Regions from separate parts of the Homo sapiens genome. Here region 2 is linked to region 1. Evidence: fine-mapped expression QTL. A gene starts in region 1. The other region holds a variant in brackets. All regions are shown on one strand. Distances are from middle to middle.

Region 1 (5,384 bases):
TTCCTCGGGTATAACAAGATAATCATAACTACCTGGTAGAGGGATAAATGAAATTACACAGGGAATGCACAGCTGGGGGAGAAAATTTTCTCCTTTACTCTCTCAGAGTCTCCAGCTGGGTCCAAGAATTAAACGGACACAAAACAGATTAACAGGGAAAAAGCATACAAATTTTATTTAATAAAACTTTACGTATAAGTGGGTGTCCTCACAGGAAAATAAACACCCGAAGAAGTGGCTAGGCCTAAGTGCTTATATACTAGGTTGAACAAAGAGAGGCAATCGTGGAAGAGTATCTAGGAAGATACTGGTTAGTTTAACAATATCTGTACAGATGTTTCTCGGCCTCAACTCCCCTTCTCTGGTGATGAGTATCTTTCCTCTTGGTATAGGGAGGGCATCTATCACATGGTAGTTTCTTTTCCTGCTTTCAGGAAGAAAAGGTCAGAGTGCTCTTCTTGCACCTGCTGTTTATCAAATGCTTTTTTTTGTTTTTTGTTTTTTGTTTTTAAGACGGAGTCTCTCTGTGACACCCAGGCTGAAGTGCAATGGTGCATCTCTGCTCACTGCAACCTCTGCTTCCCGGGTTCAAGCAATTCACCTGTCTCAGCCTCCCAAGTAGCTGGGACTACAGGCACGCGCCACCACGCCCAGCTAATTTTTGTATTTTTAGTAGAGACAGGATTTCACCACGTTGGCCAGGCTGGTCTGAAACTCCTGACCTCAAGTGATCCGTCTGCCTCGGCCTCCCAAAGAGTTGGGATTACAGGCGTCAGCCACGACGCCCAGCCTCAAATGCCTTTATACATCAAAACGATCAGTATGCCAAAGCTCGGGCGGCAAGCTGTCGACTCCAGCACCTAGCATGGTGCACACAGCAGATACCAACGGAGTATTTCCCCTCACATGGCTCACATTTCCTTTGTAACCCTCCCAAGCAAAGCTCTACTGCAAGCTGCATCTTACCCGTTTACATGTCTCTTTTCCCTACTAGACTGAGTTTCATAATGACTGGGACTATTTCTTTTTACCTTTGCATCCCTTGGGCATAAAAGTGCCTAGGAGGCCAGGCGCAGTGGCTCACGCCTGTAATCCCAGCACTTTGGGAGGCCGAGGTGGGCAGATCATGAGGTCAGGAGATCAAGACCATCCTGGCCAACATGGTGAAACCCCGTCTTTACTAAAAATACAAAAGTTAGCCGGGCATGGCGGCACGCACCTGTAGTCCAAGCTACTCGGGAGGCTGAGGCAGGAGAATTGCTTGAACCCGGGAGGTGGAGGCTGCAGTGAGCCGAGGTCGCGCCACTGCACTCCAGCTTGGGCGACAGAGCGAGGCTCCGTCTCAAAAACAAAAAGTGCCTAGGATAAGAAGACCAGAGTCTAAATCAATTTCAGTTGAATGACGAGGGCTTGATAGTCTCGAGATCTGCTTTTTTTCTTTTTTGAGACGGATCCTCCCTGTGTCGCCAGGCTGGAGTGCAGTGGCGCGATCTCGGCTCACTGCAACCTCCGACTCCCTGATTCAAGCGATTCTCCTGCCTCAGTCTCCCCAGTAGCTCGGACTACAGGCACGCTCCGCCACGCCCAGCTAATTTTTGTGTATATATATATATATATATGTGTATATATATGTATATATATGTGTATATATATATGTGTGTGTATATATGTGTATATATATATGTGTGTGTATATATATATATATATATATATATATATATATTTTTTTTTTTAGTAGAGAAGGGGTTTCACCATGTTGGCCAGGATGGTCTCGATCACCTCGTCCGCCTCGGCCTCCCAAAGTGCTGGGACTACAGGCGTGAGCCACAGGCCCGGCAGAGTTCTGCTTTTAGCAAATTATTCCAAGCACTTTTTACGGTGTTTTTCACTCTCAGTGCTAATTCACGCTGTGGTGACGATGTACCATCCAATCCTTGATAGGAAAGATCAGAGAATCTGACCAAGACTAGATGGAGAGGTTGCAATTTTTCATCAGATGAAAAATCCAGAGGATGTTTTCATTGTTGAGCTAAATGAATCTGCAAGTCTATGCTGCCCTCTAGGGCGGCCTACAGTGCCTTTAGGCGAGTAGCAGGAGCAACACAAAACTTAACAGAGGTTTCCCTGCGGAGAAACTCCCTTTAAGAAAAAAGGAGAAACCAAAAAGGTGGGCCAGCACCGGAAGCGGGGGCGCGGGTTCGGGTAGCGGGGACGCGCACGCACCTTGCGCGTCTTCGCCCCTCCTGCGGTTGCCAGGCAACCGGCCCCGGAAGTTGCGGCAGGTGCGTCCGCAGCGGGCGCCGCTAGCCAGCGGAAGATGGCGGAGGGCGGAGGCCCTGAGCCCGGCGAGCAGGAGAGGAGGTCTTCCGGGCCGCGGCCTCCGAGCGCGCGGGATTTGCAGGTGAGGCGAGGAGCCGGGGGAGGGAGCGCGGCGGTGGACGCGGGCTGGTGACGGCGCGGGCTGGTGCGAGTTGGAGGCCACCTCTGGCCTCGGCGGAGCCTTTCCCCGACCCCGTCTGGGGATAGAATCCGGCGCCCGGTCTCCCGATGTCGGGTCTTGACACTGTGGTGGTCGTGAACACAAGTGCCCAAGCCTCCAGCGCTGGTGCTTTGTCTCCCTTCCACCCCACGTATGATGTAAAAATAGCTATTCGTTTAGAATGACATTTTGCGGGGTCAGTTGGTCGGTTCACGGGTTGATGCTTCCTTCTTGAGACTTACTCCAGAAGAAAGGTTACTGTGGCCGCAGGGAAGTAGACAGTCACCTGAACAGTAATGATACGTGATTTGTTCTTTTTTGTCTTGGATGCTATTTCTGACTTGCTTACTTAAATATAAAAATGGTTCCATTTTATCAGGTAGGTTTTTCTTTTAAAGGGGTGAAGGAAAGCGATGCACTCTATGCCCATACAGCCTAGTTGTCTAAGCTGTGGTCTTTAAAACATTGCACTGAAGAAACTGGGAAATAAAATTTCGTAATGTTGTGTAGGACACTAGTATTAGTTAGCTAAATAGTAGCGCACCAAATCCCGTTTTATCAGATACTAACGCCACTTTTCTCATTTTAGGCGTTTTTGTGTCTCATTATAAGATTATTGATAAAAATTTGACAAGTAAATATCAGTAAGGAGATACTAAGGAGAATCTTGGTAGAACAGTTTTACTGTATTACTTTACAACCACACTTCATTCTAATGTGAACAAACCACCATCCATTGTAACATACTGCTGAGCTTTGCGAATGTGGAAATAAGGACATCAAATCCTTAGTCGGTGCTGAACTCTATTGATGGGTAGGTATGTAAGTGTAAAAGACAGTTCTACCTTTTGGAAGCCTACAGATTTCTTCGGAGAAATAGGGTATGAATACTTAGCATAACATTTTAAGATGGAGTATGATTGGGTGCCAAAATAAGCAGTGCATAAAGCGAAGAATTTGGAGGCTGGAGAGATCAGTGTAACATTAGGAGGTGAACTTAATGTAGAATAGTTCCAGCTCCCATAGTTGGTTCAGTAGTAGTAAACAGTATCAAGGGATAGGAAGCTATTGTGTACCTCATCTTTCCTATTATAAACCCACATCACTAAGAGGCAGCATGGAGTTAGTAGTCCCACCAATTTTGGTTTGCCTCTTAGTCCTGCTACTTAGTAGTTTTGTGAACTTAGGAGAAATGTCTTAACCTGTCTGATCCTGTGTCTTCATTTGTAAACTGAGGAAGGTCAGGGTGCTGGTGGTGGTGTAAGGATTAAATAATGTTATAAAGGGCCTATGCAAAATTCCTACATTATCCTGGCTCAGTTGTTGCTGGGCAAATATTTGATTCCTTTTTCCTCAGGAGAAAGATGCTATAACTTTCCCTGGCTAGTCAATTCTAATATCATTAAAGTTAATAGAGTGTGTAACTTAATGTCCTTTCCCTAATTTAAATCCATTTCTTCTTTTTATGTGAAAAGTGAGAACAGCTTGCTTAATGACCACCTGATTCTTGGCAAATTGTTTGCAGTCTTAATCCAGTGGATCAAAGTACGATTAATGTTTGGAGATACTCTGGTAGATGTTGCTAATTGTGAGAATGCCTTCATTTCCACCCTAAGTTATGATGGGGATTTTTTTTTTCATCTCCTGTCTACTTGTTGTAGGTTAGGGCAGTAGGAAGATAACTGATTTCTTTATGAATGTGATTTGGTGTATCAAGTACAGTATCTAAGTATTGATAATCTTTCCTTTAGAACTTAATATGAATGTGAAGAACTTGCAAAGAAACTTGAAAACAGCCAAAGGGATGGCATATCAAGAAATAAAGTATGTATCAAAAGTTTAAAAGAATTAAATAATGTTCTTCCCAAATGGTACCTTGGATATTGATTATTTATAGATTATCTTGTTACCGTTTAATCTAGACATGCTTTTCTTAAGAGTTACGCAGTTCGTGCAGCTTTCAGTAGATATTTCTTACTTCCCTAACAGCTTGCTCTAAGAGTCTTTCAGAGTGAGTAAAGGGGCAACATATTACCAATTGGAACAAGCAGAATTACCCCTGAGTAAGTGTATCTTAGCTGCCATGCAGTGTAGGGTTTGTCAGCATCTGAATCAGGAGGGAGTGTTCCAGGTACCACCAGAGAAAAGCTGCATAGTTGCTTCCCAAAAGGCCTCCCAGCCCTGGGAGCCCCCAGGTTACAAACTGCAGACTCGGAAATGTTTTTTTGCATATCAGAGTAGATTTTCATAGCTCCCTTCATCCCCCTCAAATAAGGAGATGGTCATGGGGAAAGTTAGGGGTGGGATTGTTAGTGGCAAAACTAAGCCCAAAACCTCACCAGTGTTCAATAGTATTTCTGAATTGCTTTCTCTTCTGGTGTCCCTCAGCCCGCCACACACATGTTCATTAAGGTATTTAGTTGTATACTCTGTCCCAGTTTTCCTCCACATATTATCTGTTTCTACATAGGTTGGACGGGGAGGGAGTGGGAACAGGGATAACTTCAGTATTGTTAGGGTTAGGATTGGATTTGTTAGGATGGACTCAATAGTGGGTACTATAAATGAGAAGAATTAAAATGTCTGATAGCTGTTCTGATAACTGTGTTGCCACAAGTACCCTAATCATATTGAATGTCATTATTCTGTATCGTTGATTCTCTAGTATGCATCTGTGACCTGGAAGGCTTGTCAGAGATTGCTGGGCCCTACCCCAGAGTGTGATTCATTGGTTCTAGAGTAGAGTTTAAGCATATGCATTTCCTAGAAGTTCCCAGGTGTCTGTATAATAATCATTTATTACAGCGTCTAGAATTGGTTACTCTAAGGCTGAGAATTCCAATACTTTTAATATTTTGCTATATACTTTATTTTCTCACCCGATTCCTTTGCTTTCAGGTTTCAA
Region 2 (5,384 bases), 220 kb after region 1:
ATATACCCCTAGATGGGTGTATATGTCTGTATATATGTATATGCATATGTATGTATGTATGTATGTATATATATGTGTGAATGTATGTACACACACATCCTATTGGTTCTGTTTCTCTGGAGAACCCTGACTAATGCATTTGTAATTATTTATCTTTCTGATAAATTGACCCTTTTATCATTACATAATATCCTTCGTCTCTTGTGAAAGTTTTTTATTTAAAGCCTATCTTGTCTGATATAAGTATGGCTAGCTCTGTTGTTTGATTACCAAGCATGGAATATTTTTTCCCATCCTTTCACTTTCAGCCTATCTGTGTCCTTAAACCGAAAATGAGTCTCTTGCAGATGGCATATAGTTTTAGATCTTATTTGTTTTAATCCATTCAGGCACTCCATATTTTTTGATTGGGGAGTTTGATATACTTAATTATTGATAGGGAAGGACTTACTGTTGCCATTTTAACTGTTTTCTGTCTTGTAGCTCATTTGTCCTCTTTTGTCCTCTATCTTCCTTTGTGTTGACATTTTATCATGACATAGTTTGATTTCCTCCTCATTTTTTTTAAAATTTATTTTGATAGTTTTTGTGGTACAGGTGGTTTTTGGTTACATAAATAAGTTCTCTGAGGTTTTGGTTTACCTGTCACCTAAGCAGTGTACGTACCCAATATGTAGTTTTTTTATCCGTCATCACCACCCCCATCCTTCCCCCTAAGCCCCCAAAGTCCATTATATAATTCTTTTTTTTTTTTTTTTTTTTTGAGATGGAGTCTCACTGTGTCACCCAGGCTGGATGGAGTGCAGTGGCGCGATCTTGGCTCTCTGCAAGCTCTGCCTCCTGGGTTCACACCATTCTCCTGTCTCAGCCTCCCAAGTAGCTGGGACTACAGGCACTTGCCTCGCCCGGCTAATTTTTTGTATTTTTAGTAGAGACAGGTTTCACAGTGTTAACCAGGATGGTCTCGATCTCCTGACCTCGTGATCTGCCCACCTTGGCCTCCCAAAGTGCTGGGATTACAGGCATGAGCCACTGCACCCGGCCCCATTATATAATTCTTATGTCTTTGCATTCTCATATCTTAGCTCCCACTTATAAGTGAGAACATACAATAATCTGGTTTTCCATTCCTGAGTTATTTAACTTAGAGTAATGGCCTTTAGCTCCATCCAAGTTGCTCAAAGGCCATTATTTCATTTTGTTTTATGGCTCAGTAGTATTCCATGGTGTATATATATAGGACTTTTTCCACTTGTTGGTTGATGGGCATTTATGTTGGTTTCATATTTTTGCAATTGCAAATTGTGTTACTATAACTATGTGTGTGCATGTGTCTTGTTCACATAATGGCTTCTTTTTCTTTGGGTAGATACCTGACAGTGGGATTGCTGGATTGAAAGGTAGTTCTACTTTTAATTCTTTAAGGAATCTCTATACTGTTTCTACAGTGGTTGTATTAGTTTACATTCCTACCAGCAGTGTAAAAGTGCTCCCTTTTCACCAAATCCATGCCAACGTCTATTATTTTTTGACTTTTTAATTATGGCCATTCTCACTAAGTAAGGTGATACCTCATTGTGGTTTTAATTTGCATGTCCTTGATAATTAATAATGGTGAGCATTTTTTCATATGTTTGCTAGTTGTTTGTATGTCTTCTTTTGAGAATTGTCTATTCATGTTCTTTGCCTACTTCTTGATGGGATTATTTGTTTTTTGCTTGCTGATTTGTTTGAGGTTCCTCGTAGATTCTGGATGTTAGTCCTTTGCCGGATGTGTGGTTTGCGAAAATTTTCTCCCACTCTGTGGGTTGTCTGTTTACTCTGCTGGTTATTTCTTTTGCTGTGCAGAAGCTTTTTAGTTTAATTAGGTCCCGTTTATTTATTTTTGTTTTTGTTGCATTTGCTTTTGGGTTCTTAGTCATGAATTCTTTGCCTACGCCCCTGAAAACTGGAACAAGACAAGGTTACCCACTTTCACCACTTCTATTCAACATAGTAATGGAAGTCCTAGCCACAG[C/T]AATCAGACAGAAAAGAAAGGGCATCCAAATTGGAAAAAAGGAGGTCAAACTGTCACTGTCCACCAATGATATGACCATTTACCTAGAAAACTCTAAAGACTCATCCAAAAAGCTCTTAGATCTAATAAATGAATTCAGTAAATTCTCCAGATAGAAAATCAATGTACACAAATCAGTAGCACTGCTATACACCAACAACGGCCAAGCTAAGAATCAAATCAACAATTCCATTCCTTTTATAACAGCTGCAAAAAAAATAAAATAAAATACTTATGGTTATACTTAACCAAGGAGGTAAAATAGCTCTACAAGAAAAACTATAAAACACTATTGAAAGAAATCATAGATGACACAAACAAATGGAAACATATCCCATGCTCATGGATGGGTAGAATCAATATTGTGAAAATGACCATACTGCCTAAAGCAAGCTACAGATTCAATGCAGTTCTTATCAAGATACCACCATCACTCTTCACAGAACTCCCATCAAAATACCTTTGTCAATCAGAAACAATCCTAAAATCCATATGGCACCAAAAAAGAGCCCAAATAGCCAAAGCAGTACTAAGCAAAAAGAACAAATCTGGGGGCATCACATTATTCAACTTCAAAATATACTACAATGCTATAGTTACCAAAATAGCATGGGGCTAGTATAACAACAGGTACATAGACCAATGGAACAGAACAGACAACCCAGAAATAAAGCCAAATACTTATAGCCAACTGATCTTTGACAAAGCATACAAAAACATACAGTGGGGAAAGGACACCCTATTCAATAAATGGTGCTAGGAAAACTGGCAAGCCACATGTAGAAGAATGAAACTGGATCCTTATCTCTTACTTTATACAAAAATCAACACAAGATGGATCAAAGACTTAAACCTAAAACCTGAAACCATAAAAATTCTACATGATAATATTGGAAAAACTCTTCTTTAGTGTATCTTCTATAGGTATTTTCTCTGTGGTTACCATGGGTCTTATATAAAACATCTTACAGTTATAATAATCTCTTTTAATCTGTTAACAACTTAACTTCAGTCACATACAAAAACTATTCCTTCAGATACCTGTCTCCTTTTATGTTAATGATATCTCAAATTACATCCATTTATATTGTGTATTCATTAACACAGATTTCTAGTTATGGGGTTTTTATACTTTTGTCTTTTAATTTGTATACCAGAATTAAACTGATTTACACACCACCATTACAGCACTACAGTATTCTGTATTTGCCTTTATCAGCAAGATTTATAATTCCTACACTTTCATGTTGGTGTTTAGTATCTTTTTGTTTCAAATTGAAGGACTCACTTTAGCATTTCCTATAAAGCAGATCTAATGGTGGTAAACTCTGAGCTTTTGTTTATCTGGGAAAGTCCTTATCTCTCCATTTTTTTCAAGGACAATTTGCCAGATACAGTGTTCTTTGTTGGCAGGCATTTTTATTTGTTTGTTTTATTTGGTTTTGTTTTTACCATTCTGAATTTATCATCCAATTTTCTGACCTGCAAGCTTTCTGGTGAAAAATCTGATCATTTTGTGGGGGCTTTCTTCTGTGACCAGACACTTTTCTCTTGCTGCTTTCAAAATTAACTCTTACTTCTGATAATCTGATTATCATGTGTCTTGGTAAGGACATCTCTGAAGTCCTCCTATGTGGAAGACTTCTTAAATCTGGATGTCCATCTCCTTCCTCTGTTTTGGCAAGTTTGGGGCCATTATCTCTTTAAATACACTTTCTGTTTCTTTCTCTCTCTCTTCTCTTTCTTGGACTCGCATATTATGTATTTGGTCCACTTGACGGTGTGTCATTAGTACTTTAGGCTTTCTTAACTCTTTTTCATTCTTTTTTCTCTTAGCTCCCCTGACTGGATAATTTCAAAAGACCTGTGTTCCAGTTTGCTGATTTTTTCTTCTGATTTATAGTCTGTGCTGAACTCCTCTAGTGAACTTTTTAGTTAAGTTACTACATTCTTCTCCAAAATTTCTGTTCAGTTCTTCTTTATATTTTCTCTTTGTTAATATTCTCTTTGTTAAAATTCTCATTTTCTTCATGCATAATTTTCCTGAGCTCATTAAGCATCTTTATGACAATAGTTTTGAATTCCTTGTCAGGTAATTAATATAGCCCCTTTTCTTTAGGGTTGGTTTCTGAAAATTTATTTTGTACCTCTGATTGGACTATTTTTCTCTGATTCTTTGTGCTCCCTCTAATTTTGTGCTAATATCCACACATTAAAAACAACAACAACAACAACAAAAACAATTACCTCTCCAGTCTCTAAGGACTGGCTTCATACAGAGAAAGAGACCTTCATTAATCAGCCTGGCTAGAGATGCTGGAGGCCTCTCAAACCTTTTCTATGGAAGTGTCTTCTCTGGACTTATGCATGTAGATTCCTAATTAGAGAAATTTATTGGTTTCATTTTTTTCAGAAGCTTGGACTCCTTTGCTGTCTCTCGTGTCTAGATGTCTGCTGTACCACAGGTCCTTTGAAGCAGTAGCGTGCTACCCAGCTCTCTTTTGTTATCAGTGGCTCCAGGCATCTAGAGTATGCAGGGTTCCATCTGTACTCTGAGACAGAAGAGACAGAAGCCAGTCCCTTGGGCAGCTCCCCTGAAAAGTCAGAACTCTGGATGTATAGTCCAATTTTCTCTTTCCCTCTCCAGGGAGAAGCTAGAGGCTGGGAAATTTCTTCCCAATCATGTGGTGCTGTGTGGGACAGAGGATGGCCAGATAGTGACACAAATTTTTATACCGGCTTTGATGTGGTTAGTTTCATGCTCACCGGGGGTGCAGGATCCTCTTAACTGGTTTCCAGATTTCTCACAAAGGGAATTTGTCCATGTGTTGCTGAATCAGTGTCTTCACAGGAGGAAGGAGGGGCTAGAACTTCCTATTCTGCCATCTTGCTGCTGTCATTCCACCTCACCCTTTTTTTTTTTTTAATCTGAGAATGCTTTGGTATTATAATTCACATTGGAACAAAAGAGCTTTTCTTTACTCAGACAACCTCACTTTTATTTCCTTTCACATAATCTTTCAATGAACCATGTGCAGGTATGCAATTCAGCTGGCTCTCACGAGAGCCTTTAGAGGAAGGGCACCCCAGGTGAGTGGTTCTCAACTTGGGGGTAGGGTTTCCTACTGCCCCCAAAGGCTTTTGTCAATGTGTGGAGGTGCTGTAACAAAAACAAGGGGAGCAGTGTACGAGAGGCATTTGTTAGGGGAAAGAGCTGTAATATAAGTGACAGCCCCACACAATAAAGAACCATCCTGCCCAAAATGCCAAAAGCACCACTTGAGAATAATTAAATCTCAGTATTTATACTTTCTGACTAATCAGCACA

What was found.
Region 2: its variant is fine-mapped to the expression of UBXN2B in lung (TOPMed, PIP above 0.99).

The regions. Positions count from the first base shown.
Region 1 is chr8:58,409,069-58,414,452 of GRCh38, forward strand. It overlaps UBXN2B (UBX domain protein 2B), which reads left to right and starts at 2,293. Exons shown (of 8, transcript NM_001077619.2): 1 at 2,293-2,401. The coding sequence starts at 2,318. RefSeq lists enhancers at 2,289-2,348, 2,359-2,408, 2,689-2,738.
Region 2 is chr8:58,625,350-58,630,733 of GRCh38, forward strand. All of the region lies in intron 6 of NSMAF (neutral sphingomyelinase activation associated factor), which reads right to left. Among named protein-coding and RNA genes, the nearest start is that of NSMAF, 32 kb to the right of the region's middle. The variant C/T (reference allele first, on the strand shown) is at 2,018.